Homo sapiens: one gene and its partners. The protein of the gene in region 6 purifies or fractionates together with the protein of the main gene of each other region. This does not show direct contact. Each region holds a gene or a part of one and is shown on either strand. Other genes may lie near its edges. The genes, in order: H1-3, HMGXB4, BCL7B, ARID1B, SS18L1, DPF2 and BCL7A.

The links.
Region 1: the proteins of DPF2 (region 6) and H1-3 purify together in Homo sapiens (affinity purification with mass spectrometry, with the first as the bait; one large-scale study listed by BioGRID). This does not show direct contact.
Region 2: the proteins of DPF2 (region 6) and HMGXB4 purify together in Homo sapiens (affinity purification with mass spectrometry, with the first as the bait; one large-scale study listed by BioGRID). This does not show direct contact.
Region 3: the proteins of DPF2 (region 6) and BCL7B purify together in Homo sapiens (affinity purification with mass spectrometry; 4 studies listed by BioGRID and IntAct, with this or other methods). This does not show direct contact.
Region 4: the proteins of DPF2 (region 6) and ARID1B purify together in Homo sapiens (affinity purification with mass spectrometry; 9 studies listed by BioGRID and IntAct, with this or other methods). This does not show direct contact.
Region 5: the proteins of DPF2 (region 6) and SS18L1 purify together in Homo sapiens (affinity purification with mass spectrometry; 4 studies listed by BioGRID and IntAct, with this or other methods). This does not show direct contact.
Region 7: the proteins of DPF2 (region 6) and BCL7A purify together in Homo sapiens (affinity purification with mass spectrometry; 5 studies listed by BioGRID and IntAct, with this or other methods). This does not show direct contact.

Annotation. Positions count from the first base shown.
Region 1 is NC_000006.12:26,233,274-26,236,601, forward strand, and holds H1-3 (histone H1.3), read right to left. Parts: upstream 1,715-3,328; 5' UTR 1,661-1,714; coding exon 995-1,660; 3' UTR 939-994; downstream 1-938. UniProt on the Homo sapiens protein: Histone H1 protein binds to linker DNA between nucleosomes forming the macromolecular structure known as the chromatin fiber. Histones H1 are necessary for the condensation of nucleosome chains into higher-order structured fibers.
Region 2 is NC_000022.11:35,291,771-35,296,033, reverse strand, and holds the end of HMGXB4 (HMG domain-containing protein 4), read right to left. Parts: intron 3,043-4,263; coding exon 2,920-3,042; intron 2,428-2,919; coding exon 2,383-2,427; 3' UTR 227-2,382; downstream 1-226. UniProt on the Homo sapiens protein: Negatively regulates Wnt/beta-catenin signaling during development.
Region 3 is NC_000007.14:73,540,394-73,544,656, forward strand, and holds part of BCL7B (B-cell CLL/lymphoma 7 protein family member B), read right to left. Parts: intron 3,252-4,263; coding exon 3,155-3,251; intron 1-3,154. UniProt on the Homo sapiens protein: Positive regulator of apoptosis. Plays a role in the Wnt signaling pathway, negatively regulating the expression of Wnt signaling components CTNNB1 and HMGA1.
Region 4 is NC_000006.12:157,203,878-157,207,377, reverse strand, and holds part of ARID1B (AT-rich interactive domain-containing protein 1B), read right to left. Parts: coding exon 3,382-3,500; intron 1,212-3,381; coding exon 1-1,211. UniProt on the Homo sapiens protein: Involved in transcriptional activation and repression of select genes by chromatin remodeling (alteration of DNA-nucleosome topology).
Region 5 is NC_000020.11:62,163,913-62,168,175, reverse strand, and holds part of SS18L1 (calcium-responsive transactivator), read right to left. Parts: intron 4,032-4,263; coding exon 3,930-4,031; intron 2,755-3,929; coding exon 2,662-2,754; intron 1-2,661. UniProt on the Homo sapiens protein: Transcriptional activator which is required for calcium-dependent dendritic growth and branching in cortical neurons. Recruits CREB-binding protein (CREBBP) to nuclear bodies.
Region 6 is NC_000011.10:65,343,327-65,347,589, reverse strand, and holds part of DPF2 (zinc finger protein ubi-d4), read right to left. Parts: intron 3,846-4,263; coding exon 3,753-3,845; intron 3,600-3,752; coding exon 3,521-3,599; intron 3,011-3,520; coding exon of another isoform or gene 2,969-3,010; intron 1,925-2,968; coding exon 1,787-1,924; intron 1,661-1,786; coding exon 1,532-1,660; intron 1,344-1,531; coding exon 1,231-1,343; intron 1-1,230. UniProt on the Homo sapiens protein: Plays an active role in transcriptional regulation by binding modified histones H3 and H4. Is a negative regulator of myeloid differentiation of hematopoietic progenitor cells. Might also have a role in the development and maturation of lymphoid cells.
Region 7 is NC_000012.12:122,024,658-122,028,920, reverse strand, and holds part of BCL7A (B-cell CLL/lymphoma 7 protein family member A), read right to left. Parts: intron 1-4,263.

The DNA of each region.
Region 1 (3,328 bases), on a different chromosome or scaffold from region 6:
GAAATAAATGAACAAGCAAGAGAGCCCCTGGGAAAATAAGTCCTGGAGACGCTGGCCACTGACAGAAAAAGACAATGGGCACACTTTTTATTTTGAGACGGAGTCTCGTTCTATCGCCCAGGCCGGAGTGCAAGTGGCGCGATCTCGGCTTACAACTTCCGCCTCCCGGGTTCAAGTGATTTTCTACCTCAGCCCCCAAGTAGCTGGAATTACAGGCGCGCGGCACCACGCCTGACTAATTTTTGTATTTTTTTTTAGCAGAGATGGGGCTTCACCATGTTCTTCAGGCTGGCCTCGAACTCCTGACCTCGTGATGCCCCCGCCTCGGCCTCCCAAAATGCTGGGATTACAGGAGAGCCACCTCGTCACGCAGTGCAGCCCCCACACTATTTACAAATACAGTACCTGAGGGCCGATATCCCAAAGCTAAGGCTTATCAAAGGCCTGCGAAAAGACAGACACCGGGCACCACCAGCAGTTGGCCATTCTCAACGACCAGCTGCACAAGATCGTGGGCCGGAAGCACCTTGGGCATGCCACGTACTGCTCACAACCAGGACGGGATGTGCTCAGGAAGTCACCTCAACGCTAAAGTAAACTAAAGCATTTACACCACATCCCTGTGTCAGAAATAAAATTTTTTCAGGGCCACTTTTAAGCGCCGCGCTTTAACAGAAATCGGCCGGCCAATCACACACCACCGCGGGAATTTGAAGAAAAAGTAGGACCTGGTGGCTCAAGTAGCCTTAGCTATCCGGTGACTGTGGCTGAGACTGAGACGGAAGGATCCTTGCGCCCAGGCTGCTGGGAGCTGTTAATAACTGACCCCCAACCAGCACGACTAGGATAGACCGTGGCCGCACAACACCGCAGCACCCGCACCCCTCTCCACCCCACTCCCCCCTCCAAAAAGCTTCAGCTCTTTTGACTGAGACCTGTGGGTGGCTCTGAAAAGAGCCGTTTAAAATTTTCAAAGGGGAACGTCCCGCCAGTTTCACTTTTTCTTCGGAGCTGCCTTCTTTGCCTTTGTAACCTTCGGCTTCCCCGACTTAGGCTTGGCCGCCTTGGGCTTAGGGGCTTTGGCCTTAGCTGGACTCTTGGCAGCTTTTTTTGGCTGAGGTGTTTTCACCTTTTTCGCACTCTTGGCCACTTTCTTGGTCCCAGCAGCGGTTGCTGGCTTCTTTACCTTCTTAGGAGTCTTTTTGATGCTTTTCTTCGGGGTAGCGGCGCCAGCCACCTTCTTGGGCTTCTTGGCTGCCCCAGCAGGCTTCCTAGGCTTGGCTGCGCCAGCCTTTTTGGCCTTGGGTTTGCCTTCCCCGGAAGCCGCTTTCTTGTTGAGTTTGAAGGAGCCAGAAGCACCGGTACCTTTGGTCTGCACCAGAGTACCTTTGCTCACCAAGCTCTTGAGGCCAAGCTTGATACGGCTGTTGTTTTTTTCTACATCGTAGCCAGCAGCCGCAAGCGCTTTCTTAAGCGCGGCCAGAGAAACGCCGCTGCGCTCCTTAGAAGCTGCCACTGCCTTGGTGATAAGCTCAGATACTGGGGGTCCGGATGCTTTGCGTTTCCCAGCAGTTGCGCCTGCCTTCTTCGCCTTTTTCTTCACAGGTGTTTTTTCTGCGGGTGCAGGAATGGTAGGAGCAAGTGGAGCAGTCTCCGACATGTTTTTGTCTTCCCAGAAAAGACAATAAGTAATCTCAAACTGTCAGAACAGCATGTCCTCTACGAGGGAGGCTGAGGGTTTATATAGAGAGACGCTGAGTGATGATTGGTTCCTTGCTCCATGCGCGGCGCTGCTGGAAAAGGACTCCTCGTATCTACCGCGCTGCTGTGTTTGTTGCCCCTTAAAAAAGAGTAAAAATATAAGAAATCTGGGCATGAAATAATTAGAGACTTGGGGGAAACTGATCCGAGAGAGTTCGGGCTTCATTCCTGCCTTTGTTTCTATGCATAGTTTTAAAACCGGCATCTTGAAACTTTTCTTATTCCCCCAACTCTCTTTCAAACTTCGGTCAAATCGAGACAACTTTCATGTTTTCCTTAAAAATACTATTTCTCCCTCTTTCATTTGCAAATCTCTCTTCCAGGGCATTGTTCTGTGAATTCTTACCGTCTCAACTTTATATAGATAAACTCATTTTTATCCAAATGTGCAGGGAAATTGGGTTTTTTCGCAGGAACAATAGCACAGGCTCTCTGGCGAGCTGTTTGCATCAACCTCTAGGAATTGGCACTGAGGTAGAAAGTTCTATGTACAAGAGGGGTGATTAGTTTAGAAAAGATAGTTTAAAAAAAAAAATAGTATTTGAGTTACCAGTGTGTAAGCTGGATTTGATCTCCATATTTCAGTGGTTTAAACATTTCCAGAAAGATAAGGGTGAGGCTACATTATTCCTCTTACAGAAAAAAAAGTCCTAAGTAGAGTTACCAACCTTCTCTTAAAAGTTAGGATCATGGATTTTTCCGATCTAGAATGGGCATTAAAGATCAACTACCACATCCCCAAAAAAGAAAACTGAACCAACAAATAATAGAATGGCAGGCCAACATCATTTTGGCAACTGTGAGCATTGAGAGCTTGTGTACATGTTTGTGTCCCATCACTTTATAAATAATTTAATGAAATACACTATTTTTTTGCTAATATTCATCATAGAATTTTGTACATTTTTTATATTTTAAAATCATATTTATAATACAAATTTCCCTTCCTCTTTCTCTGTACAACCTGTTTGAATAACTGGTAAAAGTCACTTTAAAAAAATAAAATACAAATTTTCAACATTGCAAGTGTGGGCATCAAGGGTTAGAAAGAAAAATATCTGATTTAAATCACTGTAAATTTTCATCATTCTACTTGGCTTTTTACACACAAAATATGAACTAAGCTGTCACACCCTAAATTAATTGGTTGAATATGTCCACCTAAGGAGCTGAACAAACATTTCAAAGCAAACATGAGTAACTTCAGTATTCTTTATCTGTTAGTTTGCAATACAGCTGATGGAATTAGGTTATTATTAAATAATTAAGCACAAAATTGATATTCTCCATCAAGTAATCAGATGCTGAAATGAACTCCTATGTTGAAGAAACAAGAGAAGTAGTTTGATGTTATGTTTCTTCTAACAAAAATACTCATTTCAAAAAATCAAGTTATTCTGGCCTACACTCAATAGTGATTAGAGGATTTTTTCATATAAATCCTAGATAAAATAATCAACTTTAAAGATGTCATCTCTCCTCATTCAACTAATTTCATAAAAATTACTTAGCTTGTCTTGGCCAGGCGCAGTGGCTCACGCCTGTAATCCCAGCACTTTGTGAGGCC
Region 2 (4,263 bases), on a different chromosome or scaffold from region 6:
AATTTGCAATTTGCAAAAGAGAAAATGAGAACCTCTACAATGTAAAAGTTAATAGAAGCAGAGTAAGGAGTATATTAAGAAAATGGCTAAGATTAGAAATTTAATCTCCATTGTGGGTTGATTTTTTTCTTAAGAAAATTATGGTAGAATAGAGTGAAAAACAGGTTTTATAATTTCATAGCAACTATGATGATCATGATTAGGGAAAAGACAGCTGAGACTGGACTACAAATATTAAAAATGTGATTTTTAATAATATAAGTACAAAATTTTATTTCTTTATACAACTGTAATGGGATTTGGATCAAACCACTAGAATTTATTTAAAAAACAAAATAAAACAATGATATAAAAACTGCAAGAAGGTCTGAATCCAAAGTTTTTCCTCTAATAGTACCAAATACCACAAGGTACAGATTATTATACAAATGTGTACAAATTTTAAATACAAATACAATAGGGCTGGGTTTCAAAGGAAAACAAACAAAAAGCAGGTCCTCATCAGGATTTCATTAATGTATATAAATGACAATGCTAGGATTAATGTCTTCCTATACTATCCATGTCTTCCCCGCCCCTCCTAGATACCCTGTGTCAAACAGGAAACTTCCACAGATACAGAAGAGGCATGGTACAATGTTCTAACACATGAAATCAAGTTAAGATTTCTGTTCCTCTTGATTTTGGTTCTCAAACAATCCTGTTTCTCTGTATTCCCAATTAAATCTTAAAACTGCTCTGAGCTGAGAAAGGGATTCAGCAGCCAGACTACCTTTAAGCAACATAGCCCTGTGACAACACTGGTGGGGAGAAGGGAAGAAATTAAATAGGATGCAGATGGGCTACACTGTCCCCAAAGATTTACTTTGATGCTGTAGTGCTCTGTCAGGGCCAGGAGAAGAAAGCACAGTTAACTCAGAGCTTGGTGTTGGCAGAGAATCTCATACCAAATTTAAAAACCATCCTGAAGTGCTCAACTGTCTTCTTTCCAACTGGGAAACAAACGTCTGGTTCTCTGGAAATAAGGGCAGCTGGGGATGGTAACATTCCTCTTTATTTTACTTTCTAGACATTATTGAAGCCCATGAAGTTCTTTATAAAGAATTAGAATCCTAACACAATGATTCATTTTTGAGGTAAAATACCTTAAAATGTAGATGATTCAGAGTTTTTGGAACAGACCAGGAGGAAGGAAGGAAAGAGGGAAGGAAACAGGGAAGGAAGGAAGGAAAGAAGGGAGGGCGGAAGGGAGAAATGACAAATCTGTATCTTCCACATGCTGTTGCTGGTGGAGGCTTCTGTTATTAAATTATATATACAGAAATTTACAGGATAAATTAAAATCTAAGAGATTTTAAAGAGTTAAATACACATAATTAAAATACACATTCACACACACATAAATAAACCTACAAGAGAGTGAGTTTTGTTTTGTTTTTGCAATTCACTTACATGTGGAATGCAGAACACTGTGTATCTGCCCACCAGGGGAACTGATAAGATGAACCCAAAAATCATGCTGGGCAAAGTTTATCCATAACCACCGAGCAACTAAGCAGCACGGCTTGTGAGGACTTGGTGGCTAACTTCATGCTGCCAGTGAAAGACACCAGCACTTAATTCTGCCGACTAAAGATTCTGGGTTAGCTCAGAATGTATGGAGGTCCAACTGGTGGCATTGACAGCTTCACCCCCCAAGGTGTTTTTTGCTGCCAGGGCTCACAGAACTCCTTGGCCTCTGTTGAGGCCACCAATGGTACCAATGATTACAATAAATTTTGAGACACAGACACCTATACAGTAGGAATTGGAATGAACCCTCTACTCAATTCACCTAAGCCACTTCCATAACTATAAAGGGAACAAATTTTATCACCTCCCACCTAGGTCACTTCAAATTGAAAGGCTTTGAATTTTCAGTCAACTGGCATCTTCCCGTTATCTTTCCTATTACATTTCAGACTAAGACAGGTAAGGCAAATGGTCAGTGATGGGTCTGGAGGTCCAACTGAGCTTGGAAAATAATCACATTTTAGCTGTCCATAAAGAGATGCGCTTGGCACCCAGAACAAGCCCCCAGCCCCCAAGTTACATTGATTTTTAAGGCAGATTTATCCACCACAGGAGAAAAAAGAATCCCAAGCCTGTATTCATGCCAAAATTTCCTCTTGGCTAAACCTTTGCCATTTCATAAAATTATTAAAAGCAAAGTAGTTACAGTCTATGTATATATTGTACATTATATATATATGTATATATGTATGTATAGATATAAAAATTTAAAACCTACAGCCAGAGGCCACTGAAGGAATCTGCAACAGTCATATATACACAAACCAGCAATGGTGTAGGATAAGGTTTCTGTCCCAGGATTCTTTGCTGTCACAGTCCCGGCATGATGTAAGCAATGTTGTCTAATGTGTTTGACTGCAAAACAAAGAAAAATGTTCAACTGAAGAGTACTGTACCTTGGTTTCCTGAGAGATGTTTCTTTGTTCAAGGAGAGAGATAAGAAAAATCAAATGGAGTTAGAAAAACAGGTGAGAATGAAGACGGCATCCTGCTGTTTGTTATGCTAGGAACTTTTCTGCTGACTTCTCCCATTAATCCTCGTAAAAAAGAGGGAAACAATTCCTGTACTGTCTTTGGGTGCAGAATAGCAAACAGGAAACACAGGAATTGTAGTACCTCAAGGGCTAGAATGCTGCTTTCTTAAGTACTGTTTTGGTAAATGGCTTGTTTTCTAGTTTCAGTGAAAGTACAGCATGCATTTGATAATATAGCATCATGTTCCATGGGCCAACAGATGAAGGAAGCACTGTGTGTCACAAAGCCTTATGTGTGTCTGACAGTGCTCATTAAGGCAGGGCATCTCTGACGCCCAATGGATCTGACTCTAAAAATCCAGGGAAAACTCACCAAGACCTGTTTGGGACAGCCATTCAATTCAGGTAGTTGTGTGGTGAGACATGCCAAGGGGCCAAGGGCACAGATAATGGAATCCAGAAGCACTGACAAACTGCCAGACACAGCCACCATACCCTGAAAAGGAGAGGAGGTTGTTGCTTGAGTCACACTCCTGATGCTGTGTTCCGGCTGACTTCCTCACACAGTACTTTAAATCCTAGGCAGTTCTACTCTTATAATTTGAAACTTTACAGCAGAAATGGAAAGTTTACTTTGATAACTCTGTAAGTTGTTTAGAAAGAAAACTTTTACAGCACATTCCCATGTTCCCTTTCCGTAATCCTAGCCCATCTTCTTACCTTCTGAGTGACCTTGGGGAGTTCACATCCTTAACTTCTGTCTCCTTAACAGGAACAGTAAAAAATGCTTTACCTACTCTGGAGAGCTGTTGGTAAGATTTGTGATTATGTATGCAAAGTATATCTGTTATAAACTCGACAAATATAGCTCAGATGTGATTACTATGAGAATCCTACAACCCTGCATGTATGTAGCTTTTGATAGCTGATTATACAATTTTTCTAGGTTGAGTTGTTCACTCTCAAAGTGAATTTGGTTCAAATTTTAACATTTTATGTAATTCATATTGTCTATTTGTGATTCAAAGAGATAAGAAAGACTGTTGCTGCTGCCGAGTTCTTGTATAATCTGCTTTAACTAGAAGCAGTGTGAGAATATGTCATATTGGGAAGCAACACAGCACAGTCCTTAAGAAAATGAGCTCCGGATTCAAGACTGCCCGGGTCCAGATCCTGGCTCCACTACTCACTGTTTTGTACCTAGGCAAGTTGCTTACTATGCTGTGCCTGTAAGATACTAACAGCATCTGCAGCAGATGGGATTGAGATAATAGATATAATATACTTGGGATGGTGCTTAATACATGGTTAAGTACTCAAAAAATATCAGTAATTATGAATATTACTACCAACATCTTGATCTTCAAAACTGCATTTCTGGCTGTCTTTTGGGTCTCTCCTTTTGGATATTTCTCCATCTCAACTTCCTGTAAGGAAGAATAACCTTCCCATGCAAATCTAGCCCTCCTTTGAGCATCCATTTCTCTGCCAAAGTCACCACCATTCACATAACTGCCCAGTCTCAAGGCCTAGCCATCACTGACTCTTCCTTTCCCTCATCCTCCTTGTCAACATCTCCCCCCTATACTTTCTGAGGGCAGCAGTACAGTAAGAGGTTAAGAACCCGGACCTTGAGGTCACATTCCAAATTCAAGTCTCTATTTTACCACTTAGGGGCTAAACTCTAGAGAAAGTGACTTCACCTCTTTAAGTCTGT
Region 3 (4,263 bases), on a different chromosome or scaffold from region 6:
TGTCAGGCATCCTTGGGCATCTGAAGGAGGCTGGTGGTGTCTGAAGGTGGTGAGCTCAGGCTTCGGCTGCCGGACTGACGGATTAGCACCTGGGAGTTCTGCCTGAAGGCTTAAAGTCACCATCAAGGTGCAAAACTTAAGAGTTACCAGGCCGAGGCCAGGCACGGTGGCTCACGCCTGTAATCCCAGCACTTTGGGAGGCCGAGGTGGGCAGATCACAAGGTCAGGACATCGAGACCATCCTGGCTAACACGGTGAAACCCCGTCTCTACTAAAATTACAAAAAATTAGCCGGCTGTGGTGGTGGGCACCTGTAGTTCCAGCTACTCAGGAGGCTGAGGCAGAAGAATGGCATGAACCTAGAAGGCAGAGCTTGCAGTGAGCCGAGATCGCGCCATTGCACTCCAGCCTGAGCAACAGAGCGAGACTCTGTCTCAAAAAAAAAAAAAAAAAAAAAAAAAAGAGTTACCAGGCCGAGTGCAGTGGCTCACGCCTGTAATCCCAGCACTTTGGGAGGCCAAGGTGGGCGGATCACTTGAGGTCAGAAGTTTGAGACCAGCCTGGCCAACATGGTGAAACCCCGTCTCTACTGAAAATACAAAAATTAGCCGGGCATGATAGCACGCGCCTGTAATCCCAGTTACTTGGGAGGCTGAGGCAGGAAAATCGCTTGAACCCGGGAGGTGGAGGTTGCAGTGAGCTGAGATCGTGCCATTGCACTGTAGCCTGGGTGACATGGCGAGACTCCGTCTCAAAAAATAAAAATTAAAATTAAAAAAAAAGAAAAAAAGTAAGAGTCACCAATGCATTCCTCCGCTGCACCTACAGTAGCCAGTCACCAAAGTGTTTCCCCCTCCTGCTCTGGTATCATTTGTGCTCATTCCTTCCTCTCCTACTGCTTCAGTTCAAGCCTCATCATCTCCAGCCTGGCCTCCTGCAACAGCCACATACCTCACTGCCCTGCCTCCAGTCTCACGTACCTTAAACTGAACTGCAAACCACTGCCAGAGAGACCTTTCTAAACCCTTCGACGCTCCACTGCTGCCTAAGGGAGAAATGTCATACCCAGTACTTTTTTTTTTTTTTTTTTTGAGACCGAGTTTCGCTCTTGTTGCCCAGGCTGGAGTGCAATGGTGCTATCTCAGCTCACCACAACCTCTGCCTCCTGGGTTCAACTGATTCTCCTGCCTCAGCCTCTTGAGTAGCTGGGATTACAGGCTTGCGCCACCACGCCTGGGTAATTTTGTATTTTTATTAGAGACGGGGTTTCACCATGTTGGTCAGGCTGGTCTCGAACTCCTGACCTCAGGTAATCCACCTGCCTCAGCCTCCCAAAGTGCTGGGATTACAGGCATGAGCCACCACGCCCAGCCATACCCAGTACTTCTTAGGAGAGGCAGGAGCTGGCCTTATCGCAACATAGGAAGTCCTTTCTGATCTCTGGCCTCAGTGCCTACTGTTCTCCTACAAGCATCCTCAGCTCCAGGCAGACTGGACCCTAACCCAAGAGCTTCGTCATGCATGGGTGCTTCTGCCCAGCTGTTCCTTGGCTAGGCTGCCTTCTCTTGTCCTGGAAAGCCTCAGACCTCCCAACACAGCCCCGACATCACTTCTTCCGCGGAGCCCTACCTCCCTGGCTCGCATAGGTGGAAATGCCCACCCTCTCTTACTCTCCTGTGATAGCCTGTGCACGCCTGCATTTATCATTTCGCACACGTGCTTCCTCCCATGAGCCTCTGTGGACAGGCTCTGTGGCTCACTTGTCCTTGACTCCCCAGTGCAACGCACGGTACCTGCATACAGTGGGAGTTCATTAAGTGTTTACTAAATGAAAAGGAGGAGATGGTGGCCAGACTGAGGAAATGGAGCCTCATATGTCTCCCAGAGCCTTCTGACTACTGAACACACGTTGGTGTTCCCTTTCCAACAGCACATGGTTGACCTTGGTGGGGCCTGGGAAAGAGGTGGGGAAGGAATAACTACACGCTGGGTTAGCTCCAATCTGGTTTTGAAGAGAAAGTCATAAACTCATGCTAGTCTTGACTCCTATAAAGACCTTTAATACCCACACTAAAATGGAAGTAGCATTTTGTCACCAAATGAATAAAACTGTCACTTTTGAGCTTAGACAAAACACTGTTCCTCCCTGAGCATCAGTTTCCTTAAATAGGGATGATAATAACTGCCTGGTTTATATCACAGGCTGATACATGGGTAAAAATGAGAAAGTAAAGTAAAAGTGCTTCGTAGACAGTACCTAGCAGGTAGGTGTAAAAGGCAGTATCATGACTACGGTGATGATCCGGCGGGATTGGTTTAGGAGGCAGAACATGTCCTAACAGTGGGTAAGCAGAAGCTTCGGCTTTGGGTAGCCTACTCTAAGCGACTATGATAAAACATACAGTCTAGGCCAGGTGCAGTGGCTCATGCTTGTACCTTGGGAGGTCAAGGCTGGGGGACTGCTTGAGGCCAGGAGTTCACAACCAGCCTGGACAACATAGCCAGACTCTGTCTCTACAAAAAATAAAAAATAAAAAATGAAGTACAATCTAAAAAAAAGCTTCTGATTCGGACAACCAGGACCTGACATGGAGTCTGTCACTTACAAGTTATGTAACTTTAGACACGTAACTTAACCTCTCTGAGCCTCAGTTTCCTTAACTGGAAAATGAGAATACCATTACCTATCTTGCAGAGTTATCGTGAAGTTTAAATGAAAAGATTTAGGTCAAGTGCCTCGCAAAATACCAGCGAAACAGCAGGCACTGAATTGATACACAGAATTCTTTTTTTTTTTTTTTGAGACGGAGTCTCACTCTGCAGCCCAGGCTGGAGTGCAGTGGCGCAATCTCGGCTCACCGCAACCTCCACCTCCTGGGTTTAAGCGATTCTCCTGTCTCAGACCCCCGAGTAGCTGGGATTACAGGCACGCGCCACCACGCTCAGCTAACTTTTTGTATTTTTAGTAGAGACTGGGTTTCACCATATTGGCCAGGCTCGTCTTGAACTCCTGACCTCAGGTGATCTGCCCGCCTCAGACTCCCAAAGTGCTGAGGTTACAGGTGTGAGTCACTGCACCTGGCCAATTCTTCTTATTAATGCATTCATCCAAGTTTTCATTCTCCTGCAAGGAAGACACAGAGATGCAACTCACCCTGGAATTCAAGAAGGAGAGAGGAATTGGCTGAGGCATCAGAAGGAAAGCCATTAGGTTCTCGGGCTGCTGAACTGTTCGATTTTGACTTTTCTTTCTAGAAAAGGAAAAAAAGAGGAATATGACAGAGCCAAGCAGGAGACTCACAGAGAGGGAGGAGGGTGCTATGTGACAGACCACAGAGGTCTGGATTAGGACTGAACAGGAAAAACGACAGCAGCGTGAGAATCCAAGGACCCAAGGAAGAACAGAATCCTGGACAAGCAACTTCTCCTCAAGCCTCAGAAAAATGAACCCTTCCAGCAGGAATACTGTGAATCATAAGCAACAGGCAGATACATACACTTCGACTAGAACATCCCATAGTATCCCTCTCCTGCCCTGATCAAATTGCGCCAGGCAACCCTTCTCTATACGAATGGGCAAGAAATACAAAACACTCATTTGAGAAAGATTCCTGTTTCAGTAGCAGAGTGGGGAAAAAGTGAGAGAAGAAGGAACCTCATGTAACACAGACAGTGACAGGACAAATGGGCCCAGGCTGGCTCTATTCCTGATCCGTCATCCTCATCCATTCAAAACGACCACCCCAGCCGGGCGCACTGGTTCACGCCTGTAATCCCAGCACTTTGGGAGGCCAAGACGCATGGATCACCTGAGGTCAGGAGTTCAAGATCAGCCTGGCCAACATTGTGAAACCCTATCTCTACTAAAAATACAAAAATCAGCCGAGTGTGGTGGCATGTGCCTGTAATCCCAGCTACTTGGGAGGCTGAGGCAGGAGAATTGCTTGAGGTGGAGGTTGCAGTGAACCAAGATGGCACTACTGCACTCCAGCCTGGGCTACAGTGCGAGACTCCATCTAAAAAAACATAAAATAAAACAAAAAATAAAATAAATAAATAAATAAATAAATAAAAATACAAAAATGAGCCTGGCATGGTGGCATGTGCCTGTAATCCCAGCTACTCTGGAGGCTGAGACAGGAGAATCGCTTGAACCTGGGGGGTGGAAGTTGCAGTGAGCCAAGATTCTGCCACTTCATAACAGCCTGGGCGAAAGAGCGAAACTCCATCTCAAAAAGAAACAAACAAAAAAACCCAAAAAAC
Region 4 (3,500 bases), on a different chromosome or scaffold from region 6:
TGAGGCGACAGGACCGAGTTGGGTCCCACAGTTGGAAAGGGATCTTGTGCCTCTGCAGACGGGCACACCATCCAGTGCAGCAAGCCATCCAAAATTGGCAAGCAGATGCTTTCCGTGTAAGCAGACAAGTCTAGCTGCCCGGAAATGTTGGCCAACGTGACCAACGTGTTATCCCTCAAGACCTCGAGGCAGTCCCACCACCACTCATCTTTGCTGCAGGCCACCCCCTTGTCCTCATCCTCCTCTTTCTCATAGGTCTGCGGTGCTCGCTTTCTCTCTGGATGCTCGTGGTGAAGAAGAATCAGCTTCCCCAGGATCAGCACCAGGCCTGGATGTTTGGACATTTCGGCATCATTGCCAGGCACGAATGACAAGCTACGGACAATATTGGACACACAGATGCATCGCTTAGCCAGCGAGTCCTGCCAGTGCGCGATGGTACACAGAGGAGTCTCGTCTCGGCTCCTGGGCTCGTCCTCCAGCAGCTTGATGTTCCGGTGACTTTTGGCTTGCTGGATACCAAAGGGAAACTTACTGCTTTCGGTCTGGGGCCCAGGGTTTGCGTCTTCAGGCAATGCCCCTGGCCGAGCAGAGAGGACGTCATCGATGGTTGCTATGATGCTTTTCTCTTGCTGCTCTTCAGAGTCGCCTTTGCCTTCTTGCTCTTTCTTTCTACCTGCGGAGCTTAAGGGGGGAGGTGGGCGCCTGCGAGGAGGAATTTCCATCTTGCTCTCAAAGTGAGTCTGAATGTGCTCGGTGGTGTCACCCCCGCCGAGCTGCCAGTGCAGAAGGCCACTATTGAACTCCTGCACACGCCCCAACTTGTCAGATCGGTCAACAACAAACAGGTTGTTCTTTTTGACTATCTTTATTGGCAGCTTGTCGAACTTACTGGCTTGCTTGGGCTTCTCCTTTGGGTCTGCAGCGGCGTCCGGGGCAGTCAGAGCGATGCTGCTCTTTTCATCGCTTTCTGTCTTCTCGCTGTCTTCCTCCTCATCCTCCTCGTCTTCCTCGTCGTCATCAATACATTCAGCATCTTCCTCCTCTTTCCCAGAATCGTCTGCCAAGGACTGGCTGTCATCCTTCCTTGCTGCGTTGTGATCAAGTGCTTTTTGGCTGGGGTCTCCCACTTCATATTCCATAAGAATTCCAAAAATGTCAATCAGGCATTTTCTAAAGTACTCGACTAAAAGTTCGAGAAATCCAGACAACTGGAGAGGAGGAGGAGGAGAAGAAAGAAAGAACAGGTACAATGTCATGACATCAGATATGACCGAGGAGGGTAAAGATCCTGAGACCCGTCAATACCTTTCCATCATTGTCACACGTTTGTCTCCCTTTTTGGCTGGACCATGAAAGATAAACTACCCTTCAGGTCCAGCGAACTTCCTGAATTTTACAGTATAAACTAAACCGATGTTTAGCATGTTCCTTATTTGCTGCTTCCTTGCTTAGACTATCTACACGAAAACTTACTTTTTATTCTCATATCTCTAATCTTATCACTGAGGGAGTGCCTTGCTGTTCTTTACCTTTCTGTTCCTGATTTAGAGACAATGTACTCATTATTAGAAGAGTGGGAACATGGATTTTATAGACTCTTTTGCCCAAAGTGACTCTGTTCTCTTCTATTATTTATCTGAGACTTGCTTGCCGGGATTTTTATGGTTGTTATTCTTAGGATTTTATGGTTATTTTTGTCTCAGGTACCATAGGTCACCCTAATTTATGTTCTCTATATATCTTTTGGAGAAGATAATTTCAGCAATGTGGTAGCTCATGAACACTGAAAATTAAAAACAAATCAATTTAGCCTATGATAAATAAATTAAAATGTTTCATAAAATGCAATTTTACATTTCAGTTATTTATGACTCTAGCTGAAAGGCAAAAACCACTATGAGAGAACCACTGACTACAAGAACAAGTTTGGTTTCCTTTAAGCAACTGTACCAAGAAAAAACCAATACACTTCACGATTAGCAACTGCCCTCTCTCCCAACACCCCCCACCATGTTTAGGAACTCTAAAGAGTAAGTAACAAGGATTCTAACAAGGATTCTTTCCCGGTAGATGTTCTGGAAATCAGCTATACCTTCATATCCTACTGTCAGTTTCTTGAAAGTAGAGTTGGAACAATTTTTAAGAAGTCAGGGGAAGCCCCCAGCACCAACTAGAAAGAACTGCTTTTAGTGTGCTGAAGGCACAATGTTCCAAGGGCATTTTCCCTTTTTTTTCCAGGGGAAAAGGGAAAGTTAATAAAGCAATTCTGGTTATGCAAATATGTGATCAACAACAGTTCACCTAACATAAGGATGAAAGCGCATTACTCTAGCAAATGCAGTATACAGTTTTTAAATACTTATTTTCTGTTAACACAGAACTCGTACAATGTTTATGACCTTATTAATAAACTTTCTAGCAATTGAAAAATTGCCTTTCTAGGCTGATAATGAGGGCTTAAATGAGAGAAGAAAGAAGTAGAAGATTCTGGTCTTATTTCCTTAGAAGCAAGGAAATTAAGTGTTTTAGTTTTTGCACTCAAAGTAGAGAGTTGTTTGTATACTATAGGGAAAATGACCTTTTTCCATTTTTTATTTCTAAATATTTCTTTAAAAGTCTATAGCCCAGTGGACTCGGGCATTTTCCCCAAACTTCAGTGCTCCTCTCTTCTAGCTATTATGCTGGAAGCTACCTGAAGCCTACCTCTGAACAAAGGAGGGGTTTAAGCTCATTAAAAGTAGTAGGCTTTTACATGACTGCTTCAAAATAACCTGGAGAGAGGCAGAAATGAGAGAGCATAGACTAAGAAGTAAGTTTAGCCATGAGTTCATAACTATTTTAGCTGACTGACAGGTACATGGGGGTTCATTAAACTGCTCTCTCTCCTTCTATATATATTTATACATTCTATAAATGTATAGAATATAAAATTTCTAAATCTTGAATATCTTTTTAATGAAAAGAAGATGTCAAGTCCTCCTGGAAAGCAGGGTTATGTCCCATTGCAACCAACTGTGTTTCCAATGCTGACTCCAGTCACAACTTAATGTTACATTTTGATTTCTTCCCATTGGCCAGCTAATATTCATTCTGAACAATTTAATGTTACTACTGTCATCTATCCCATATACACATACACACACAGTCACTGTTCTCTCATAAGAAATAGAGGTATGTGTGTGTACACACACTAAAGACTACAGTGAATATTATCCCAGATAACTCTACATTGATTAAGGCTGGTTGATAACAACTGCAGTGATTAACAGTGTTGGACGGTCAGTGCTCATCAACTCAGGCATTAGTTCAAGCACAAATGTGCATGGCCTGATGCTCTCCTATCCTAATTTGGTTGTTAGTTGGACTATGCTGGCTTACCTGGGAGAGATTGAAAGTAGCAACAGTGCTGTCATCATACAGAAGAATATTAATAGTGTCCAAAGCCCACGTACTCTCAGCCAAAAGACCTGATTTAAGGGACATCATCACACGCCACG
Region 5 (4,263 bases), on a different chromosome or scaffold from region 6:
ATGATGGAAGGCAAGAGTACCTAACCCACAACAAGCTACGGAAGTACCTATCAGCCAGGCACAATGGCGCACACCTGGAGCCCCTGCACTGTAGGAGGCTGAGGTGGCACTTGAGCCCAGGAGTTCAAAACCAGCCTGGGCAACATGGCAAGACCTTATCTCTACAAAAATTAAAAAAAAAAAAAAAAAAAAAAAAGCCAGGCCTGGTGGTGCATGCCTTTAGTCCCAGCAATTCGAGAGGCTGAAGCAGGAGGATCACTTGAGCCTGGGATTTCCAGGCTGCAGTGTGCCACGATCAGGCCACTGCACTCCAGCCTAGGTGATAGGGCAAGACCCTGTCTCTTTAAAAAAAAAAAAAAAGTAGCTACATCAGACACTAAAAGGCTGAGCAGCACATCCTGCGTTTGTTTTTGGGACAAAGTGTGGCAGCCTTGGGCAGACGCATGTGGACACCTCGCCATGGACAAGGCTGAACCCTGTGCTCCAGCTGGAAGGGACAGGGCCAGGCCCATGATGGCAGAGATCCTGCTGACTCCCAGGGCTTACGGAGGCACCACTGCAGCCAATATGCCAGAAGATAGCCTCTGGGTGCTGGCCACAGGGTGGCTTTTGTTTTGAGACAGGGTCTGGCTCGGTCACCCAGGCTGGAGTGCTGTAGTGCAATCTCAACTCACTGCAACCTCTGCCTCTGGGTTCAAGCGATTCTCCCACCTCAGCCTCCTGAGTAGCTGGGATTACAGGTACCCGCCACCACGCCCGGCATTTTTTTTTTTTTTTTCGGGAGAGAAAGGGTTTTGCCATGTTGCCCATGCTGGCCTCAAACTCCTGAGCTCGGCCGGGCGCGGTGGCTCACGCCTGTAATCCCAGCACTTTGGGAGGCTGAGGCAGGTGGATCATGAGGTCAGGGGTTCGAGACCAGACTGACCAACATGATGAAACCCCATCTCTACTGAAAATACAAAAATTAGCTGGGTGTGGTGGCGGGGCCTGTAATCCGAGCTACTCAAGAGGCTGAGGCAGGAGAATTGCTTGAACCTGGGAGGCGGAGGTGGCAGTGAGCCAAGATCATACCACTGCACTCCAGCCTCGGCGACAGAGTGAGACTCCGTCTCAAAAAAAAAAAAAAAAAAAAACAAACAAACTCCTGAGCTCAAGCAATCCTCCTCCACTGGCCTCCCAAAGTGCTGGGATTACAGGCGTAAGCCACCATGCCTGGCCATTTCTTTTTTTTATTTCTTTTTATTTTTTTTGAGACAAAGTTTCACTCTTGTTGCCCAGGCTGGAGTGCAATGGCATGATCTCAGCTCACTGCAACCTACACCTCCCGGGTTCAAGCAATTCTCCTGCCTCAGCCTCTTGAGTAGCTCAGATTACAGGCACATGCCACCACGTCCAACTAATTTTTGTATTTTTAGTAGAGACGGGGTTTCACCGTGTTGGCCAGGCTGGTCTCAAACTCCTGACCTCAGGTGATCCACCCACCTCAGCTTCCTAAAGTGCTGGGATTATAGGCGTGAGCCACAACACCTAGGCTCTTTCTTCTTTTAAACTTTCATTATGTATTCATGTACTTTTTGTTTCCCCCAGGTTTACAAAGGTGTAACTGACATTTCAACGTTGCAGGCATTCGTAGCGCACACCGTGATGTTTCTATATGTGCCTACACTTGCGTGCTTTATTTCTTCACAGCAGGCTGAGATGTGTAAGCTCAGAAGCAAAACCTTTACACATCCAATTCTTTAAGAAGTAACCCAAACAAGGAAATCTGTAGCCGTTTAGTGCCTGCCTGCTTTGTGTACCTGGTGAAGCCTCACCAACACTGTTACCTCTTGATAAATTGCAGCCCTGCAGTGGGAAGGCCTCAGCCACTGCTGCCTGCCGGTCAGCGTCAGCAGACACGAGGCCCCTCTCCCCAGGGACTGCAGGCCCGCCTTCCCTCCCGGACGAGGTTGCGCAATCCCGCAGGCGATCATCAGCTCTTCTCTGGGGGCCATCTTTATCCCGGGGTGGGACTGGAACGGGCTGTGTGTACCTCTTCCCAACTCCACATTCTGGGATGTTCTGTTGGGGTTTCAGGGCAGCCAGGGTGGGGGCACAGACACCACAGAAAGGGGCAAGTCCACCCGACACGCAGCCCCCAGCGCAGCACTGCCCAGGACCGCCATGAAGGGCGGCAAGCCCCCAGCCACAGATGTGCGTTTCCTGGCCTGCAGGTGTCTGAAGAAACGCGAGGCCACACCCAGCGCAGCCACTGCTGGCCTCCAGCTGAGGAAGCTCTGAGAGTGGCTCGCAGGCCCCACGATCCCTGGCCAGACCCAATAACAGAGTCTGTGTCCCCAACCCCAGCATGGCCGGCTGAATCCTTCCTGTCGCAGGCCCCACGCTCCCTGGCTGGACCCAATAACCAAGTCTGTGCCCCCAACCCCAGCATGGCCGGCTGAATCCTTTCCTGTCTCACGAACACACCCATAAGGCAAGCGGGGCTCCCGACACAGCCTGAATTTCCAGCTTCCAGAACACACTGTCTCTCCTCCCACGCGCTGTGCTGTGATTTAAGGGACTCACTGAAGGCAGGCACCGCGTGCTCCTAAGGGTGCAGCGTCTTAACTCTGCTGCGTGTGGCGCTTACGCTCGAGCCCAGCACGCAGCCGTGCTCCTTACCCCCCTCATAGTAGTGCTGCGTGGACTCCTCGAAGGACCGGTCGTAGCTCTGCTCCGTGTAGGATGACTGCTGGTAGGCGTAATCGCCATGGCCTGTGCGAAACGGAGACGGCGACAGTCAGCGGAGGCTGTGCACTGCACAGGTCCCGGAGGAGGCAACTGAGACCCAGGCTGGGGAGATGTTGTCTGGCCAGGGAGGCAACAAGAGCCGGCAGGACCCGTGTTCCCCAAAACCATGCCCCAACCTCCTGAGCCTCGGCCTCCCCACTGAAATGCAGACATCAATGCCTCCTTCTCGGGGCGACTGTGAAGCTACCTGGGGATTTATGCAGAGGATCAGCGCTTTCAGTGCCTGCCACACAGCCATGCTAGTGACCCGACTGCCTTCTCCCCGCCACCGCTAGCTCCTGGGAGGACGCAGGCAGGGGTGTCCAACCCTTACCGAGGCCTTCGCTGCATGTGACCATCACGTGGCCAGGGTGGCTTGCCCTGCTGCCACCTGCCCACCTGTCTGTGCACCTGCCCCTTGCTGGCTGAGGCCAGCTCCCTGCCTGGATGCCTCCCAGGGATCAATCCAGCCTTTAAGACCACTTTATTTTATTGTTATTTTTACTTTATTTAGAGACAGGATCCTGCTCTGTCACCAAGGCTGGAGTGTGGTGGTGCGATCATGGCTCAATGCAGCTTCAACCTCCTGGGCTGAAGCGATCCTCCTGCCTCAGCCTCCCAAAGTGCCGGAATGACAGGTGTGAACCGCTGTTTTCAGCCAAGACCACTTTCAGTATCCCTTCCACAAGCCCTGGGACTATGCAAAGACTGAAAGGTGACGACGGTAAAATACTCTGCAGAGATGAGAAGGTGCAGGAGGAGAGGTGCTGCAGGTGGAGCCGTCACCTTCAGGGCATTCTCTGTGAAGCTGGGAGGCGCCTTCTTGAACATTTCCACCTATCTACAGCTAGGAGCTACAATTATCCGCCTCCAACTCCCACAGCCTTTCAGGAAGTAGAGGCAAGGCCGCGTGGAGGCCAGTGCAGCGGTGTGTGCCACAGCTTCTCTCTGCAGAGGCCAGGCACCACTGCCAGCCCAGCTCACCCCATCCCCTACCTTGCTCCTGCAGGGCGTCTGGCCACTCTGCCTGTAGCCCAGGCCTGAGCTGGAATGACTGAGGACACACTGCAGTGGCCACACCCTCCTTGCCCTCCTTGCCCTCCTTGCCCCTGCAGCTGCTCTGCGTTCCTGGGCGGGGTCAGGCCGCCGCCAGTGCTCACCGTCGGGGTAGTACTGCTGGCCCATGGGCTCCGCGGCGCCCTGGCTGTGGCTGTACTGCTCGCCATAGTACTCCTCCTGGCCCAGGTACTGCTGGGAAGAGCCTGCGGGGGAACCACATTCAGCGCCAGTGCGGGCCGCGCCCTCCTCCCTCAGAGGACCTGCTCGCTCACTGGGGAAGCCAAGGCCTTGCTGAATGGCCTCACCCACCCGAGGAGAACACCCCACGCTGTCATCGTATCCAACTTATGTTTTGTATTTTTAGTACAGAGTTTCACCATGTTGGCCAGGCTGGTCTTGAGCACCTGGCCTCAGGTGATCCGCCCACCTCGGCCT
Region 6 (4,263 bases):
GGCCAAGGTGGGAGGACTGCTTGAGCTCAGGAGTTTGAGACCAGCTCAGCAATATGGCAAGACCCTGTCTCTACCAAAAATATAAAAAAGTAGCCAGACATGGTGGTGTGCATCTGTGGTCCCAGCTACCCGGGAGGCTGAGGTGGGAGGATTGTACTGCTTGAGCCTGAAGGGAAAGGTTTTAGTGAGCTAAGATCGCGTCACTGCACTCCAGCCTGGATGACAGAGAGACTCTGTCTCAAAATAAATAAATAAATACATAAAGAATAAATAAATAGCTGGGTGCAGTGGCTCACGCCTATAATCCCAGCACTTTGGGAGGCTGAGGCAGGCGGATCACCGGAGGTCAGGAGTTCGATACCAGCCTGGCAAACATGGAGAAACCCCATCTCTACTAAAAATACAAAATTAGCCGGGTGTGGTGGCACGTGTCTGTAATCCCAGCTACTTGGGAGGCTGAGGCAGGAGAATCACTTGAACCCAGGAGGCAGAGGTTGCAGTGAGCTGAGATTGTGCCACTGTACTCCAGCCTGGGCGACAGAGCAAGACTCCATCTCAAAAAAAAAAAGTAAATAAATAAATACATAAATAACCATGTCACTTCCCGAGTAAAACCCTTCAACAGTGTCCTGTTGTACCTAGAATAAAACCCGAGGCCCCAGAGATCTGGCAGTGCTTGCCTCTCTCATCTCATTGCCCACCATACTCTCCCATGCCCTGTCATCTGGCTTGTCCAACATAAGGCCTTGGCGCTGGCTGCTCCTTTCCTGGGATTCCTCTACCTCCAAATCTTGACTGGCTCCTTGGTATCACCAAAATTTCAACACCAGCATCACCCTCCCAGAAGAGCCATACCTGACCATCAAAATAAATCACTTATGCAATTATTCTCTGCCACAGTACTGATTTCGTTTTTTTCATGGCACATTATACAAATCTCATTTACATCCTTGCTTATTGTTGTTCCTGTAAGAATGTAAATCTCATGAGGCAGGGACCTTGTTTGTCTTTAGCATCTTTAGTGACTAGAACAGTGTCTGACATAAAATCAGCACTCAATATATATCTGGCAACAAATCAGAGTTCTGACTGAGATGCTAGGGAGGGGCGTGTGGCATGTGGGAGGGATCCTGCTCCCTTTTTAAAAGAAAGCTCACTTTAGAGGGAACTGTGCAAACAGCAGTAAAAGCCCAGAAGGAGCCATGCTGAGGAGGGGGCGGGGATACACACGTCATTCTCGGAGGTGCCGCAGATATTGCAACATTTGCACTCGATGCACTGCCAGCGGTATGTCTTCACTGCCGCCATCATCACGGGGGTAAATTGGAGGCAAGATGGATGCCCTGTAGTGGGGGAAGTGAGTGAGACAGACAGTCGGAAATGCGGGGGGAAGAGAGGAGCTCCTGCCTGTGGCTACATCTTCTCTTGGTTAGGAAAAGCGAGGTGGGCTGGTTATGACAGCCCTAGAGGCCAGCAAGCCAAGAGCCCCTTGGGGACTGGGCAAAGCAGCAGCCTTCACGGGAAGCAGTACCTGAGCGGCCACAGTCAGAACAGGACACCAGCTCCTCGGGTTGTCCCGTCTTCTTGTTAATCTTTGAGTCCCCCAGGCAGAAGTCACAGTAGTTGTTGGGCAAGGCCAATCCATCAGGACCCTTTTTGGCTACAGAGAGAAAGAGTTTTGATGACACCCATGGGGGTCCCTGAGCCACTCAACACCCATGCAAGGAGTGGTTTTCATAACCAGGCCAACTTCTGCTTGCCCACCACTTCTGACACCTCAGCTTACATTTCTGCTCCTCAGACCTCTGGGAAACAGGAGTGGGTGGTTGAGAGTCTTCCTTGTCCTCGCCCTCCTCCTCAGCCAAGTGGGAGTGGGCATAGTGGTAACTGAGGCCTGGTCGGTTCTTGTAACGTTTTCCACAAACTGAGTGGGAAGAAGATTGCAGAGAAAGGTGTTAGGATACAAGAGTGCCATGTCCCCATCCCTGCAAGCTGTGGGGGCTCCACCTGAGGCAGAGGGCAACCATCCCTTCCCCTAGCAGCTCCACTCTGGGACAGGCCTTGAGTGACGGCCACTTCCCCTCAGCCAGGAGCATCAGGCCGTGGGGCTCTCTAGCTTCTGGGGCTCTTTTCCCTCCTGAACTCCAACCCCATGGCCACCACTGCTCTTCCATGTTGACTTTTGGGGGGCTTAGCCCTTGCCCCATCACCAGTTAGTTGCTCTGGGATATACTAACAGTCTGGGACGCTCCAGGTCAGGAAAGGGAAGGATATTCCTATATCTTTGGGGTGGCAGGAAGGGGGAAAAGTGGATAAGACTCCAAACTTTTTTACCCCTCAGTAAATGTGGGAGGCTCATGCTACCCCACACACCATGGAGCCCATCTCCCCTGAATGTGGGTAAACAAGCAGGGGATGGGTTTCTTGGGGATAGCCTATCAATGAAGCCAGTTGGGCAGTTGGTCCCCAAAGAAATTCAAGCACACTCCCATGTAATTGCCCTGTCCAGGCCTGCCAATCAGCAAGGAAAGCAGATCCCCATGAGGCATTTTGTCATCTTGAGAAGTAATACCAAGAAGGGCAAGGGGGCCAGCAGGAAAGGAGTGGGGAGAGAGGATGGCAGGAGGAGGTGGTGGGGCAGTGGGGAACATGAGCTGACCACCAGCTGCCTGGTCTGGGGAGGGAGCGGAAGGGTCTGATTGTAATGGGCTCCTGATAATGCTTCTGAAGCCACCCCATGCACTGGGCCGAGCAGCTCTAGGAGCAGGTTTGTGGGAAACAAGCAGTGGTAAAGGCAGCCTTCAGGACTTTGAGGAGTAGAGCACAGCAGAAATTCCACTGCTCCTACCCCCATGCCATTCCAGAGATTTTAAAGCTAGCATCCCAGGAAATGAGAAAGGCAGGAGGAACAAGGGAAGAGGGAAAAAGGGAAAGGAAAACCACAAGTCTGAAAAGTTGAGAGAGCTACCTCTCTGGGGCGCTTTCGAGGTATGCTTTTGTTTGAAACTATCTGAAAGACAGAAAGAAAAGTCATGAGAAGAAGGCCTTGATACACTTGAGACAGGAGCAGCAGCAGCAGGAAAGCAGAGCAAACGAGAGAGAAACCCCAGCGGCGATGGTGCTCCCAGGGTGGAGGGACAGAAGTGGGGCAAGGCAGACAGAAAGAAAAAGAGAACAGACGTTGAAAAACTCAGTGTCAGACCCCTGGGGCCCTGGCTTAACTGAGGCCAGGAGACCTGCAGGCCATCTGTTGAGAGGCCAACCCTGCCTGCTGTGGCCCCCACAAGCAACCCTACCCCAGAGGATGGCAGAAATCTTTCCCAGAGCATGCAGGTCCCACCCGTCATATAGCAGGGACCCAGGCCTCCCAGGGGTCTCAGACGGAAGCAGTCAGCAGGCAGGACAAGAGCCCAGGTTTGTTTTAATACTCTGGGCAAAAACACAACCCTCCCTCCTCTCATATCCAGAGCAGGAGCTGGGTCCAAGGCAAGGTCTACCCACCCACTTGTGAGGCACTCACTGTCACAGGCATAGGGCTTATCCCGGTCCTCCAGGATGGAAGCATCCAGCTTCTTACGGGCACTGCCCACACCCTTACCCTGCCAAGAAGAGCAAAGAGACACCCTTATTTTGGTAGCTGGGCCTGAGGAGTTAGACTCTTTTGGAAGTGGCCGCTAATCTCACTTGAAATAAAATAAGGAATTCCCTAGGCCACCCTGTCCCAAGATGCAGGCAGCACGCTGGCCCCTCACCTTGGATTTCCCCTTTCCCCGACGCTTGGGAGTATCTTCTTCATAGTCTTCATCATCGAGGTCATCCAGGAAGTCATCTGGTTCTAGGATCCGCTGAGTGGACAGGAGGGTTAGCATGGGTAGAAATATGTGCATCCAAAAGCTCCCCTATGATGAGACTGGCCAAGGCCACCCAGAACCTCCTCTGTGACGTGGTCCCACCCACACCAGCCTCATTCCTCACCAACGCCTTTCAAGCATGCTATAATCCTGCTCCTGCTCCCTTCCATACTTTGGGATATCTTTCCCCTGTGCTTCACGTTATTTCCTTAGCCTGAAATGCTTTCCCCACCATGCCACATGGCCAAATCAAATAGCATGCTTCCAAAAGGTTGCCCTGATGCCACAAGCAGCCATGCCCTCTCCTGCCTCTGATTGGCCACCCTGGGAGCACATTATTGGTGGTTCTGTCCTGACACTCGCCTCCTAGTTTAAATTAAAATGTTGTTGCTTATTTGTGTGACCTTGTGGG
Region 7 (4,263 bases), on a different chromosome or scaffold from region 6:
CAATTCTGAGCAATCAGAAGGTGTCCAGAAGAGACCGAGTGCTCCTGGGAAGAACCTCAGTTGTTAGAGCAACCATCACAATAGCCACTGTGTGCCCAGGCTATTACATGCCAGGCTCCACGCCAAGCACTCTACTTACACACCCTCTCTCCCTGGGATTCCCAACAGGCTACAAGAGGGGGACGATTGTCACCCTTTTTACAGATGCAGAAACAGGATGCCCAGAGAGGTTATACCACTAGCTTGGGGTCTCACAGACAGGAAGTGGCAGAAGAGAATTAGATTTGGGCTCGGACCCCAGACACCACCTCCTGCTATTCTGTTGGCCATGAAAACCAAGAATCATTCTAAAGGAGCGCCAGGGTAACAGAAGCTGGAGGAAGAATGACAAATTGCCAGGACTCCATGCAGATTGGCCAAAGCCATTCATTACTCATGAGCCCTGGACCAGCTTCCCAGTAAATCAACCCATTCAAGGTTTGATTGTGTTTGGGAAAAAAAAAAAAAAGTAATTGACTTGTAACACACAGGACACCTTTCAGGGCAGAAAGTGTGCCAGAGATCTGGGCTTTGCGGCCGCAAATCAGCCAAGATGCAAGTTTGCAGCTGCTTCCCAGCGAGGCTCGAGGCCACCGCAGGCTACAAGCTGAATGCAGCCAGGCTTTCGTGCCTCTCTTTGCCCCAACTGGCAACCTCTTCACCGAGTTCTCAAGTTACCCCAGTGATGAGAAACTGTATTTCTAGGTGTGGACATTGAGGGGACTCTGGGACAGAGGCAAGAACATTAAGAATTCTACCTCTGAGCTGGACCTATGCTCAGCTAAGCAGCCACCCGGAGGGGCCATGGAGCTCAAGTTTAAGGCACCAAGTGAGCACCCAGGAGGACATGGGATTTCACAGCCACAGACACACTGGGTGGGCACACGGGTTCAGCGGAGCAGCTGAGGTTTCCCACAATTGCCCCCCAAAACCATCACCACAGAACACATACCCCTCCCCAAAAAAGGGCGTTGCTCCTCTTCCCCAATGAGGGTATTAAGCTATACTCATCACTTTCTTATTTTTTTATTTTTTTTATTTTTTTGAGACGGACTCCTGCTCTGTGGCCCAGGCTGGAGTGCAGTGGCACAATCTCGGCTCACTGCAACCTCCGCCTCCCGGGTTCAAGCGATTCTCCTGCCTCAGCCTCCTGAGTAGCTGGGACTACAAGCACATGCCACCACGCCCGGCTAATTTTTGTATTTTTAGTAGAGACGGGTTTCACCATGTTGGCCAGGCTGACATCAAACTCTTGACCTCAGGTGACCCACCCGCCTTGGCCTCCCAAAGTGCTGGAATTACAGGTATAAGCCACTGTGCCCAGCCTATTTGTTATTTTTTTGAGATAAGGTCTCCCTCTGTTGCCCAGGCTGGAGTGCGGTGGTGCGATCACTGCTCACTGCAGCCTCGACCTCCTGGGCTCAAGTGATCTTCCTGCCTTGGCCTCCCAAAATGCTGGGATTACAGGTGTGAGCCACCACACATGGGCCCCACTTTATATTTAGGATGGCAAACAACCAGTCAACAGGCGTGTTTTGTTTGGCCTGCACAGTACTTTAAAAATGTTAAATCTGCTGCCAAACTTCAAACAAACAAACAAACAAACAACAAAACAGGCTTTGCATAAGAATCCAGACTTCTGGCTACTCTTGAAAACATGACCTGGGCCCACATGCCCCAGGGAGCGACAGCTTGCCCCAGATGGGCTCTCTGGCCCCCCTCAGATGCCCTCACTCTTGACACCTGTAAGCACCAGGTGCAGAAATCCCCACAACCACCAGGCTGCAGCCCAACTTGCTGCAAAGCTGGCCCTGGGTGTGCCCCGCGCCTCCTGTCTTGGCGGCCCCGTCACCTTACCCTGACTTCAACACCTTTCCCTTCCCATTACACTTGAGCTTCTGGGAGGAAAGGAAAAAATGAGGTCCCAGCAGTAGGAATATAGCCCCAACTGCTCCTCCCCAGCACGGACTCCTATATAAACTACAAGAATCCATCCCAGATTCTCCAGGCTAAGGCCAATTTCGAATGTTCTCCTGTGTCCAGGTCCAAGGGTTAGCCAACAAGACCATCTTAGGGTTACCCACCACTCAAGGGGACCCTGCTGACTCCCTCCAGGAAAGCTCTACTCCCTGTCCTTGTACTCACTCCTCATGGCTAGTCCCTGTCACCTCAAGAGGCCTGGCCCATGGCTGGCCTCACCCTAGCTAGGCCCAGGTCTGCCTGACCTGCCATGTGCCCAGTAGGAATGTCTCCATGATGAAACCTCTGGAGGAGCTGAGGTGAGGGAGGCCTCAGGCCCAAACCTCTACCTCTCCTGGGACAGACGGGAGCTCTTCAGGCACAGACCTTTCTCAGTCCTCACAGCAAGTCATTGAGGGAACCCTCAGACCAGGTGCTAAGGGGTCCTGGGCCTAAGCCTACTTTTTTTGTTTGTTTTTTGAGACAAGGTCTCACCCTGTCACCCAGGCTAGAGTACAGTGGCACAATCGTAGCTCACTGCAGCCTCAACCTCCTGGGCTCAAGTGATCCTCCAGGCTTAGCCTCCTGAGTAGCTGGGATTACAGACGAGGGTCACCATGCCTGTCTAATTTTTTTCTTTTTTTTTTTTTTTTTTTGAGACGGAGTCTCGCTCTGTCGCCCAGGCTGGAGTACAGTGGTGCAATCTTGGCTCACTGCAAGCTCTGCCTCGTGGGTTCATGCCATTCTCCTGCCTCATCCTCCCAAGTAGGTGGGACTATAGGCGCCTGCCACCACTCCCGGCTAATTTTTTGTATTTTTAGTAGAGATGGGGTTTCACTGTTAGCCAGGATGGTCTCGATCTCCTGACCTCGTGATCCTCCCTCCTCGGCCTCCTAAAGTGCTGGGATTACAGGTGTGAGCCAACGTGCCCGGCCTTTTCTCTTTTCTTTCTTCTTTTTTTTTTTTTTTTTTTTTTGAGATGGAGTCTTGCTCTGTTGCTCAGGCTGGAGTGCAGTGGCGCGATCTCGGCTTACTGCAACCTGCGCCTCCCAGGTTCAAGCAATTTTCCTGCCTCAGCCTTAAGAGTAGCTGGGATTACAGGCGTGTACCACCACATCCAGCTAATTTTTTGTATTTTTAGTAGAGACAGGGTTTCACCATGTTGGCCAGGCTGGTTTCCAACTCCTGACTTCAGGTGACCTGCCTGCCTCGGCCTCCCAAAGTGCTGGGATTACAGGCATGAGCCACTGCGTCCAGACTAATTTTTCTTTTTTCTTCTTCTTCTTTTTTTTTTTTGAGATGGAGTCTCGCTCTGTTGCCCAGGCTGGAGTGCGGTGGCGCAATCTCCGCTCACTGCAAGCTCCACCTCCTGGGTTCCCGCCATTCTCCTGCCTCAGCCTCCCAAGTAGCTGGGACTACAGGCGCCCGCCACCACGCCTGGCTAATTTTTTTGTATTTTTTTAGTAGAGACGGGGTTTCACCATGTTTGCCAGGATGGTCTTGATCTCCTGACCTCGTGATCCGCCTGCCCGGCCTCCCAGAGTGCTGAAATTACAGGCGTGAGCCACCGCGCCCGGCTCTTTTTTTTCTTTTTCTTTTTTTTTGGTTTGAGACCCAGGCTGGTCTCAAACTCCTGGGCTCAAGCAATCCTCCTGTCTCAGCCTCCCAAAGCTCTGGGATTACAGGCGTGAGCCACCGCAGCGGGCCTCCAAGCTTACGCTGCAGCCCAAGCTTTCGTCTCCTACCATCGCCCTGGGGTCTTCTCTCCTCCACCAGCACAGGGCCCCCAAACCCTGGCCCAGTTTCCCAAAAAGAGGCCCACCATTTTGTTTTCCCTTTAGCCATCTTCTGGTCACCTCACCTCCACTGGCCTGCCTTGCTGAAACACCAGAAAAAGAGAACAGGAGGCAGCCTGCCCCAAATGAGAGGGAGGCCACAGCTTTTTCCGGGGGTGGGGGAAGCATCAGGGGACAGTGGGTGGGTCGGGGGGGTAATTTTAGGGGTCACTAGGGCTGAGGAGAAACCCACCCAAGGCTCATGGGGCCAAATGATCTGCCAAACACTTCGGCTTCCCTCTGGGTAAAATACAGGGTGCCCTGTTAAATTTGCATTTCAGATAAATTAGATAATGTTTTAGTATAAGTGTGTCCCAAATATTGCATGAGACATACTCAAAAACATTTATTTTTAAAAAAATCTTTCATTGTTTATCTGAAATTCAAATTTAACTGGGTGTGCTGTATTTTTATCTGGTTAAACCTGGCA